Regions from separate parts of the Homo sapiens genome. Here region 2 is linked to region 1. The links come from fine-mapping of genetic effects on gene expression. A gene starts in region 1. The other region holds a variant in brackets. All regions are shown on one strand. Distances are from middle to middle.

Region 1 (5,359 bases):
AGCGCACAAGGCACACACCCACTATGGGGCCTTTGCACAGCTGTGCCCTCCCCAGGCTCCAGCCCTCACCTCCCCCAGGCTATTTCTCAGATGTCCCTTCAGAACTAGAGCCCTTGGGCCCCCAGCCCCATTGACACGGAACGGGCCCCCTGTTGTATCTCAGGTCACTGCTGTGGTTGCAGCCACAGGGGCAACACCTGTTACTGCCACAGCGTCCGACCTGGGGCCAGCGTGCATTCAAACGCACTGCTCTGAGAGGCCAGGACGTCCATGGGTTGGGCGCAGGGGGCGGCGGTGGGAAAAGGTGTCAGGCACCATGGGTCCCGACCTGGAGCCCACGTGCCAGCTGCAGAGATGGGCACTGAAGGCTTTTGAGCAAGAGGAGGAGGTAACGCTGGCCCCTGGGGATGCTGTCAGGGAAACTGAGGCAATCTTGAGCCCTCGGAGCAGAGAACGGGCTGGGCCAGGGGCTGGAGGACCCTGGGCCAGCTCCAGCTGGGTCCTGCTCTGTTCCCACCCCTGCTGCTTATTAAACCCTTGTAAAGCAGCACAGGACTAAGGTAGGGAAAGTACTTTAGGAAATGCCCCTTTTTCACATTTTATCGGCAGGTGTTTCATACAAAGAATACAAGTAACTGATGAATGAAGGGGGCATCTTGTGTCCCCACAATCCTGCTGTGCGCACACCACAGGTGAGCCGTTCTGCCTAAGGGAACAGCCCCGGCCCCTCCCTCCGGCTCCTCCCCAGCACCGTCTCCTCCACCCAGTGGCCTGGCCGTGGATGCTGCCTGTGGCCCAGCTTTGAGACACCGCCCTGACACGTGTCCAGCCTTACGTGGAAGGATTTGTCTGTTTTGTGGCATCCTAGTAGATGCCACGTTAGTAGATGCCATGTTAGTAGAATGGATGTGGGCATTTCTTTGTAAGTTCCCAAAAGCCTATGAGGGTTTTTTCCACGATTCCGTTCCCAGTTTGGCTTTTGTTGTTGTTGTGGCTGTTCTTGGCCCCCCTGGGCCCTGCAGTGGAGTGGGGGGCTGCACCTGGGAGCCTCGAGCTGAGGCCCAGCCCCTCCTGCCCTGCATTTTCCTGCCAAGCAGCACCTGAGACTCTGAAGCCGATGCCTATACAGGCAGAAACCTGCCAATTCCAGCTTGAACGACTGGAGGGTCCTGAGGATGGGGGTCCCTGGGGTGCCATCATGGGCAGGGTGCATCTGTTTGGGTATGCTGCCCCCCAGCTGGCGGGGCACCGGGGACAGGCACAGCCACACTGGGGGCATTTCTGGTCTTGGAAGCCTTCTTGGCTCTTCCGGAGGGAAGGCGGCTGCTGGGTGCCCTGTGATCCACCCGCGAGCTGGGCTGTTCGGCTTGGTCTGCAGGGGCTGGGGGGCTGCATTTCTTTTCACCAGCTGCACCCACCCGGCCCCATCCTGGCTGGCACCGAAGGGAGCAGCGCGCCGTGACATCCTCCCCTCAAGCCTGGTGAATGGTGGTTCCATGAGGCTGGAGTCAGTGGGTGCCTGTTGTGACAGCTGGATTTCAGTGTTGGTACAGGAGCACACACCTAAGGGGCGGGCCAGTGAATGAGTGTGCGAGGGTGGGCTAGAGAACGAGCAAGGGAATGAGAGAGAGTGGGTTAGAGAGTGAGTGAGCCAGTGAATGAGTGAGTGAGCAGGAGTGGGTTAGAGAGCGAGGGAGTGAGTGAATGAGTGGGCTAAAGAGGGCCGGGCGCGGTGGCTCACGCCTGTAATCCCAGCACTTTGGGAGGCCGAGGAGGGCAGATGATCTGAGGTCAGCAGTTCGGGAGCAGCCTGGTCAACATGGTGAAACCCTGCCTCTACTAAAAATACAAAAACAAAATTAGCCAGGCGTGGTGGCGGGCGCCTGTACTCCCAGCTACTCAGAAGGCTGAGGCGGGAGAATGGTGTGAACCTGGGAGGTGGAGCTTGCAGTGAGCCGAGATCGTGCCACTGCACTTCAGCCTGGGAGACAGAGCGAGTCTCAAAACAAAAACAAAAAACAAAATTAGCTGGGCATGGTGGTGCATGCCTGTAGTCCCGGCTACTCAGGAGACTGAGGCAGGAGAATAGCTTGAATCGGAGTCAGAGGTTGCAGTGAGCCGAGATCGCGCCACTGCACTCCAGCCTGGGCAACAGAGCAAGACTCCATCTCAAAAAAAAAGTGGGCTAGAGAGTGAGTGAGTGAATGAGTGAATGGGAGTGGGTTAGCGAGGGAGTGAGAGGGTGAATGGGAGTGGGTTAGAGAGGGAGTGAGAGGGTGAATGGGAGTGGGTTAGAGAGTGAGGGAGTAAGCGAGTGAATGTCTCTTGGTGCTGCTGTAACAGAATACCTGAGCGAGCCTGGGTAATTTCTAGGGAGCAGAGTTCTTTCCCAGCTGTGGAGGTTGGGAGTCCAGGGTCATGGTGCCAGCAGGCTTGGTGTCTGGTGAGGCCTGATCTCTGCTTCCAAGATGGCGCCCAAACACTGCATTCCCCGGAGGAGAGAGGGGAGGAAGGCCACGTGTCCACATGGCAGAAGGCAGAGAGGAATCCATGCCCAAGCTGTCTTGACAGCTACAGGAGTTTGTCTGTGAGGGCGGGGCTCCCATCAGGTTCCACCTCTCTACACTGTTGCTCTGGGGAATGAGTTTCTCACTGTGAATCTGGGGGGCACATTCAGACCCTATTGTGGGTGAGTGGGAGAGCATGGCTGTGTCACTGGGACAAGTGGCCATGAGTCGGGGGAACTGAGGGGTTTTCAGTGTCCTCACCCGTATGTGTTGTGGCACCTGTGCCAGGCACCAGCGTTCTGCCCTCCCCGGCACAGGCGCATCACCGAGTCCCAGGCCCGCCTGCTGGGCATTTTCCTGCCAAGCAGCACCTGAGATTCTGAAGTCGATGCCTGGATAGGCAGAAATGGGCCGGCAGGAGGCTCCTGACAGACGGGTCTGTGCAGTGCCAGCGCAGGCAGGGTGCTGTGGCCAGGTCCTACACCTTTATGGTCAGGGTTCCAAGACGTCATGAGACGGCTTGTTCAGCCAGTTAGTTGTCGGTGCCCCTCTGAACAAGGACCCCCCCAAGGAAGGGGGTGGCCTCGCATGGGTGGCTGGGGATCCTGCTCCGTCCCACATGTGGCCAGCATGGCCGACACTGGCATTTCTCAGCTCGACAACAATTTTTCTGACTTTGGATATTTTCTAGATTTTGTGTTGTAAGAAAAAACACTTGGCAGTCAAATACTAGGCAGATTGAAATGCTGACTTTCTCACTGTTTCATTTTGTGATTGAAGTGCGTGCAAAACACTCAATCTGGTAGGGATGATGCCCGCGCGGAGCTGACCCTTCTCCTATTGTTTTTCCAAGCTGGAGAAGAAGCAGGCGCTCCCTCCATTCCAGCCACAGATCACAGACGACTACGGTCTGGACAACTTTGACACACAGTTCACCAGCGAGCCCGTGCAGCTGACCCCAGACGATGAGTGAGTCCCACTGGGTGCGGGTCCCTGGAGCACCCCTCGGGCAGCCCCATGGCAGGCCGGCACCTTGGGCAGCTGGTGACCCAGCCTGCCCTTGAGTCCCACCCGCCTGGTGTCATCTCTCCAGTGGGCGTTGGGGGAGGATTCTTATGCGAACGTGACTCCGCTTCCCCCAAGGGAATGAACACACGGTCACCCCCCTCCCCCCTGCCACCTTTGCCCACAGGGATGCCATAAAGAGGATCGACCAGTCAGAGTTCGAAGGCTTTGAGTATATCAACCCATTATTGCTGTCCACCGAGGAGTCGGTGTGAGGCCGCGTGCGTCTCTGTCGTGGACACGCGTGATTGACCCTTTAACTGTATCCTTAACCACCGCATATGCATGCCAGGCTGGGCACGGCTCCGAGGGCGGCCAGGGACAGACGCTTGCGCCGAGACCGCAGAGGGAAGCGTCAGCGGGCGCTGCTGGGAGCAGAACAGTCCCTCACACCTGGGCCCGGGCAGGCCAGCTTCGTGCTGGAGGAACTTGCTGCTGTGCCTGCGTCGCGGCGGATCCGCGGGGACCCTGCCGAGGGGGCTGTCATGCGGTTTCCAAGGTGCACATTTTCCACGGAAACAGAACTCGATGCACTGACCTGCTCCGCCAGGAAAGTGAGCGTGTAGCGTCCTGAGGAATAAAATGTTCCGATGATGTGGAAGCTCCTCTGATGCCTTTTTTCCGTGAGTGGCGCCTGCCCCACATCTCAGACGCAACCCACACGTAGGGGGGCAGCTTAGGAGCCAGCGGGACACAGGTGGGGGCGGGAGTTGAAGTACCTGTGGGGACACACCGCAATCAAGAATTGTTTCCTAAAAACCCCGGTAAGTTCCTGTTGTTCTTCCTGCAGAGTGTGTCCCAGCCGCTGTGGTCTAGGGTGAAGTGACACCTTAAGCAGATGGCAGCTGGGCCAGCCAGCTCACTGGACCGATGGGGGAAATTGGATCATAGAGATTCTAAAACGTGGCCCACCAAAGCACAGTAGACCAAAAAAGAGAAAAAACTGAACACTAAATCTGCACAAATCATTTCTGACCACACTAAGCAGTGCCTGCACGATGCCTCGTGCGACGCATTTGATTTTTGGAAGATATTCTTATCTGTCACACAGCACTGAGAGTTAGGGAAAACTAAAAGATGTGCATGTGACGGACCCCAGCCTTAAAGTTGAACGTGATGACCCTACAAACACCCAGAAACACAGGCACTCTTCCCAGCGGCGCGGACCTCCTGCTCCCGGGAACACACCCGCGCTCTCCGTCCACCCACCCCTCAGGTGAAGGCACAGCTGTCCAGAGCTGAGGCTTCCTAGAGGCAGGGCTGCCAGCTGCCAGGTGTCAGGTGTGGCAGAGCCGTCTTCTGAGCTCCCTGGGAGAGGGGGTCGCGCCACCTCATGCCTCTGAGTGAGGCCTGGTGCACAGGTGTGGAAATTGCCACGCAGCCCTCTTGGCCAGGCGCAGAGACCCCAGGCCTCCATGACTCAGGGGCCGCTCCACCCCATTGTGCGGCTGGTGGCTTGGGGAAGAGAGACGTAAAACCCCAAGTTAGGAGGTCTGTGCCGCGCCTTGCCTTGCCTCAAGGTCATCCCCAGCAGGTGAGCGTGGCCCACCCTACACACTCAGGTTTCTCAGGGTGCCACTCCGTGCCTGGCGCTCAGCACGACATGGTGGATTCACACCCAAGCCCCAGGTGCCAGGACAAGAATGCCAGCGCTGGGCATACTGCCGGCCCATTCCCCCCGGCCCGAGACCCTGGACACCCGCCCCCCCCCGGCCAGCTCAGGCTTCTAGGTGGAATGTGGAGACGGGTTTCAGCCACACTCCCAACCTTAGCTGTTGAGACTCAAC
Region 2 (5,359 bases), 140 kb after region 1:
GGCCCCTTCCCCACACCCGCGCTGGGGCTCTCCGGGTGGGGCTGGAGGGCGGCCCTGCTGGGGGCACTCGGCAGAGAAGGAAAAGTACTTTTCCTTTCACAGTCTGTAAACTGTCTGGAGAGCTTCAAAGTTGGAGAAACCATAAAAAAGAAAATAAGAAATAACAAAAAGTGAGGTTGCCATAGAAACCATCCTCTCCCCTCCCCTGAGCCTGCCGGGGCTGGCACCGGAGCGTGGAAAAAGCGCCTCGGCTGGCCCGGGCTCACACCAGGAATGCGGCCGCAGCTGAAATGGGGGCAGGAGTCGGCTCACACCGCAAGGCAGAGCAACATTCCAGACGCCGGCCTGGAAAACAGCGCTCCCCTCGCAGAGCGGCGGCCTCCTCGGCCAGGCCACGGGCTCGGCCGCCTGTGCGTTCCCAGGGCTGGACAAGAGCAAGCCTCGGGGGCCGGGAGGAATGTGCTTGGCCCCGAGTCAGCTCCTTTAGAAAAAAAAAAACACGGTTCTGGGGGGCCTCGCCAGGGGGACACACGTTCTGCAACCTGGCGGGTGTGGGCCACAGCACCGGGCACCGGGGACAGCCTCCCTGGCGGGCGGAGGAAGAGCCCCACATGGCAACGCCACAGTGTTTCCAAGCAGCCCGGTTTCTAGGTGTTCCCAGGAATCCAGCTATACCAGTGGTGGCCAAGGCGCTGGCCGGGGGGCCGAGAGCTCAGTGGGCAGTGGCTGAGGAGCCCGGCCACAGGCCCCATCTGACCCCACTCCTGAGGCTGGCGTCCCGGCGGATGGGAAGGGTGGGCGGCAAGGGCTCTGGCTGGTGGCCACCGTGCGGCAGGCCGGGCCTCGACGGCCACGTGATCTAGCCCTGGGCCAGCTCTCACTTAGGGCCTCGGCCATACGTACATGGCTTAGCCCCAAGTGGCCCCTGAATCGGATCTCCCTTCGCTCCTCACCCCCAGGGCTGTCTCCGCCGAGCACATAAACCCTGGCCGAGCGGCTGCGCACAGGTGCCAGCGCCTAGCCGATTCCTGTCACTGCAGAGATGTCCCCGCCCCCTCCTGGGATGGCTGGGACGCGGTGGACCGGTTGATGGTGTGAGGGCTGCTGTGGGACCACGGGGGACACCGCGTGGCACTCCAGCCGCTCCCGTCACCAAGGCCTCACTGGCTACAGCCCCGGCCACACGGGTGCCGTCCCCACGACCAGGGTGGCTCTGCTTGTTCTCCCGCTGCGCCAGAGGCAGCTCCACGGTGGCATCCAGACCCCAGTGAGCAGCGGGTCCAGACCTTCCAGCCTTTGGCTCTCCAGCCAGAACCCCAGAGACACCAGACGAAGGGTCATTCATGTTGGCCCAGGTGACAGAGAGGCTCCATTCTCCGTCAGGCAGCCAGTCAGCCGCGGTGCCCAGGTCCTGCTAGGGGTCCGAGCCTTTGTGTAGCTGAGGTGCCCTGGCATTCGGCCCCTCTGGCTTGGTGGGGGGGTGCCAGGCCCAGGCTGTGGGGCGACTGGAGGAGGCCCCACGGCTGAGGGTCTGCACCTGAGCCTTCTCCAGGCCCTCGCTGCACCCCTCCTTGCTGTCCCCACAGCAGCCCCCACGCTGGGAGGAGCCTTCCGCCCAGCCCAGGCCCACCAAGCCCTGCAGCCGGCCTTGCTGGGGAGCAGCTCCTCATGGTTCAGCCACTGTGGGCCTTGACAGCTCCCCTCGGCTCCCCTTGGACCCCAAGGCCTCCGAGTCCCCGTGCTCCCTGCCCCCGTGGCTTCCTCCTTTCTAGGACATTCCCCACATCAAGGGCTGTGTCGGCCCAGCTTCAAATCTTTCTGGACCGTCCCCAGCCCCCAAGCCACCAGCCCCCTTCCCATTCAGGTCCCTGGGAGGGCCTGGCTGCTCCCCAGTCCCCCACCCACTGCCACCTACCTCTGGGGGCCCCGGGCCGAGTTCCCCCAACCCCACCTCCAGCCCTGGGCTGCGGCCTCGCCTCTCCAGACAGTGGCACAGCCGGCGATGGACTTGGGCCCTGTCCACCTACCTAGGTGTGCTGCCGCAGCCTGCTCCTCCGTGGCTCTCCCCTCAGGCCTGTGGAGACGACACAGTGAGGCCCCTGAATGCCCTGCCTGGGCCCCGACGACATGGCATCCCTGACCTGAACCAGGGCTAGTGGCTCCAGGGCAGATTCAGGGCCCCAGCACAGCAGAGGCCTGCGAACCCCACCTCGGGGCCATGGGCAGGACGGGGAGAGTCCTCTGGCAGCCTGCACCCAGCTCTCTGCACCTCGGAACCGTGGGCTGCCCTGTGCAAATCCTCTTTGTCTAAATTCTTGATGTGCTTATGGCCTTGGAGCAGGAGTGGGACCGACCACCCCATTTCCACAGTCTTCTGACAAGGCGGAGGCCTCCCAGGGTGCAACTGAGAAGATCCCGGAGGGCGGGAAAGACCCTGAGCCCCTGAGAGACGGCGAGGCTGGAGCCTGCAGGGAGCGACTTAGGAGCGGCGGAAGTCTCAGCAAGAGGGACCAGGAGGCCCGGCGGTGGTATGGTGCCCCCTTGGAGGAACAGAGGCCCAGTGTCACCTGGGAGTGCCATGACTGGGAAAGGAGAGGTAGCAGTGAGGATGGGAGGGGCCCAGGGGTCCTGCCGGGGCCTCCCCGTGGAGACACTCACTGCCCTGGCTCCCTGAGGGGTGCAGCTCCTGCCCTGAGGCAGTCTCTGGGGGGGCCCACCACCCACCAGGGTTTCTGAACTGCAACAAGTGATGGGCCTGTTCCTCCTGCCTGGACAGCGCCTCGGGGCACCCACGGGCTGGGGCAGGGCCATGGCCAGGCAGGATCTGGGTCAGGGAAGCAGGTGGGCCCTGAGGACGTGGCCATGGCCCTGGCGGGGAGGAGGCAGTCCCTGCACGTGAGGAAGCTGGGCCCGGCAGGTGCCTCCGATGCTCCTGCTGCAAGGACGAGGGGCTGGCTCTGTGTGGACACCCACCCTCCTCCCCGGGCAGTGAGATGCACTTCGGAAATACATCTTACTTTCTTCTTTCTCTCCCCTTTCCTTC[C/CCTTCCTTCT]CTTCCTTCCCTTCCTTCCTTCCCTCCCTCCCTCCCTTCCTTCCCTCCCTTCCTTCCTTTCCTTCCTTCCCTTCCTTCACTTCCTTCTTTTTTTTCTTTCTTCTTTTCTTTCTCTCTTGTTCCTTCTTCCTCTCTCTCTCTCCTCTCTCTCTCTGCCTCTCTTTCTCTCTCTCTCCTCTCTCTCTCTCTCTCTTTTTCTCTCCTTTCTTTCTCTAGATAGAGTCTGGCTCTGTGACCCAGGCTAGAGTGCAGCGGCATAATCACAGCTCACTGCGGCCTCCAACTCCTGGGCTCGAGCAAGCAATCCCCTCGCCTTAGCCTTCCAAGGAGCTGGGACCACAGGAGTGTGGAGTGTGCCACCATGCCCATGGGACCACAGGAGTGTGCCACCATGCCCAGATAATTAAAAAAATTTTTAGAGAGGAGGTCTCACTATGTTGCCCAGGTTGGTCTCAAACTCCTGGGCTCAGGAGAATCCTTCCACCTCCGCCTCCCAAAGTGCTGGGATCACTGCACCTGGCCTTTGTTGATTTTTTTTTTTTTTTTTTTTTTAGCAATAGAGACAGGGTCTCACTCTGTTGCCCAGGCTGGAGTGCTGTGGCCTGATCATGGCTCACTGCAGACTCAACCTCCCAAGTAGCTAAGATTACAGGCACGTGCCATCATGCTCAGCTACTTTTTAAATTTTTTTGTGTGGGGATGGGGTCTCACTATGTTGCCCAGGCTGGTCTCAAACTCCTGGGCTCAAATGATCTTCCCACCTCGGCTTCCTAAAGTGTTGGGATTACTGGCATGAGCCACCGTGCCCAGCTGAGATGTTCTTTCTGTGTGAAGCCCCAGGTGTGCCGGGCTGGGCTGTGTCCGGAATTACCCATCAAATGGGCCTGGGGAGGCCTGCTGGGCTGGCACCCTCCCGCGGCCTCCTCCCGCCGTCCTGCCCGCTGTGGCTGGCCAGTTCCTGTCACTTGTGGCTCAAGGGGGTCAACAGCCCACCCAGAGCTCGGAGAGAGCCAAGGGCTCCTTGACTCTCCAGGTTCCTACCCGTCGACAAACTTAAATCCTACAGGCAGCAACTGGGTGAAAAAGAATGAAAGACAAGACTTTGAAATGACTTCATTTCGAGTGGGGAGAACAGGCTTTGCCGGACCCCAGGACCCACGTAAGACACAGGAGTGCGGGCGAGTTGGGGAAGCGGGGTACATAATTCAGCACCGAGAAGAACTAGTCTGCCAGGCTGCCAGCCTAAGAGAAAGGAGGCAGGATTACAGGAATCCTGAGAGCTTTTACAGAACCCCCAGGGCTTTGAGAGAACGGGCAGAGCCAGCAAGGAGCTCGGGAGTCTCGGCCTAGGGAGGAGGTGGTGCAGATTTGCAGGCATCGGTGCCCCACAGACGGCGAGCAGGCCCGAGGCCAGTGTCCACAGGGACCGCACATGGGGAGGTGGTGCAGGAGCCCTGGGCGGTGGACTGGGGGTGCGTCTGGGCACCCACTGCGTGCCTGGGACTGCACCTTCATGCGGGTGCTGGTCCCTCACTCCTGTCCCTCACGCGCTGGCCATGACGGCCCTGGCACCGGCTGCCCTCTGGAGGCCCCAGTAAGTCCGCACCACCCCGGCGCCATCTCCTGCCAGTTCTGCCTGAGGCAGCAGCTGCCACCACCGCGCAGACACATCCTGCTCCCTCCTGACTTTCGGAGGCCTGGCCTGGCATCGGCCTGGCAGTCTCGGCCTCCCCGTCGGGGTTGGTGTCTGGGGATCAGGGTGAAGACACAGCGACCCGGGCCTCACCCAGGGTCTGTGTGTGGCTGTTCTGCAGCGCTGGACGTCTGAGGCCTGTGTCGTCCCCACAGACGCGCGCTGTGGACACACTGGCGCCCACACAGAGACACAGAAACACACAGAAACACACAGAAAGACAGAAACGAAGACAGAAACACAGAGACACAGAAATACAGAAACACAGAAACAAACACAGAGACACAGAAACACACAGAAACACACAGAAACACAGAAACAAACACAGAAACACAGAGACACAGAAACAGAAACACACAGACAGAAACAAACACAGAGACACAGAGACACAGAAACACACAGAAACACAGAAACAAACACAGAGACACAGAAACACACAGAAACACACAGAAACACAGAAACAAACACAGAGACACAGAAACACACAGAAACACAGAAACAAACACAGAGACACAGAAACACACAGAAACACACAGACAGAAACAAACACAGAAACACAGAGACACAGAAATACAGAAACACACAGAAACACAGAAACAAACACAGAGACACAGAGACACAGA

What was found. PIP is the estimated chance that this variant, and not a neighbour inherited with it, causes the effect.
Region 2: its variant is the best candidate, but not a certain one, in a credible set for the expression of PRKCZ-AS1 in whole blood (INTERVAL, PIP 0.56).

The regions. Positions count from the first base shown.
Region 1 is chr1:2,181,223-2,186,581 of GRCh38, forward strand. PRKCZ-AS1 (PRKCZ antisense RNA 1) reads right to left here and starts at 2,653. Exons shown (of 2, transcript NR_146290.1): 1 at 2,349-2,653; 2 at 572-1,519. PRKCZ (protein kinase C zeta) reads left to right here. Exons shown (of 18, transcript NM_002744.6): 17 at 3,361-3,476; 18 at 3,700-4,173. The coding sequence ends at 3,787. It also overlaps a transcript of FAAP20 not described here.
Region 2 is chr1:2,322,070-2,327,428 of GRCh38, forward strand. It overlaps MORN1 (MORN repeat containing 1), which reads right to left. Exons shown (of 14, transcript NM_024848.3): 13 at 2,028-2,074. Among named protein-coding and RNA genes, the nearest start is that of MORN1, 67 kb to the right of the region's middle. RefSeq lists an enhancer at 33-640 and a silencer at 297-502. The variant C/CCTTCCTTCT (reference allele first, on the strand shown) is at 3,044.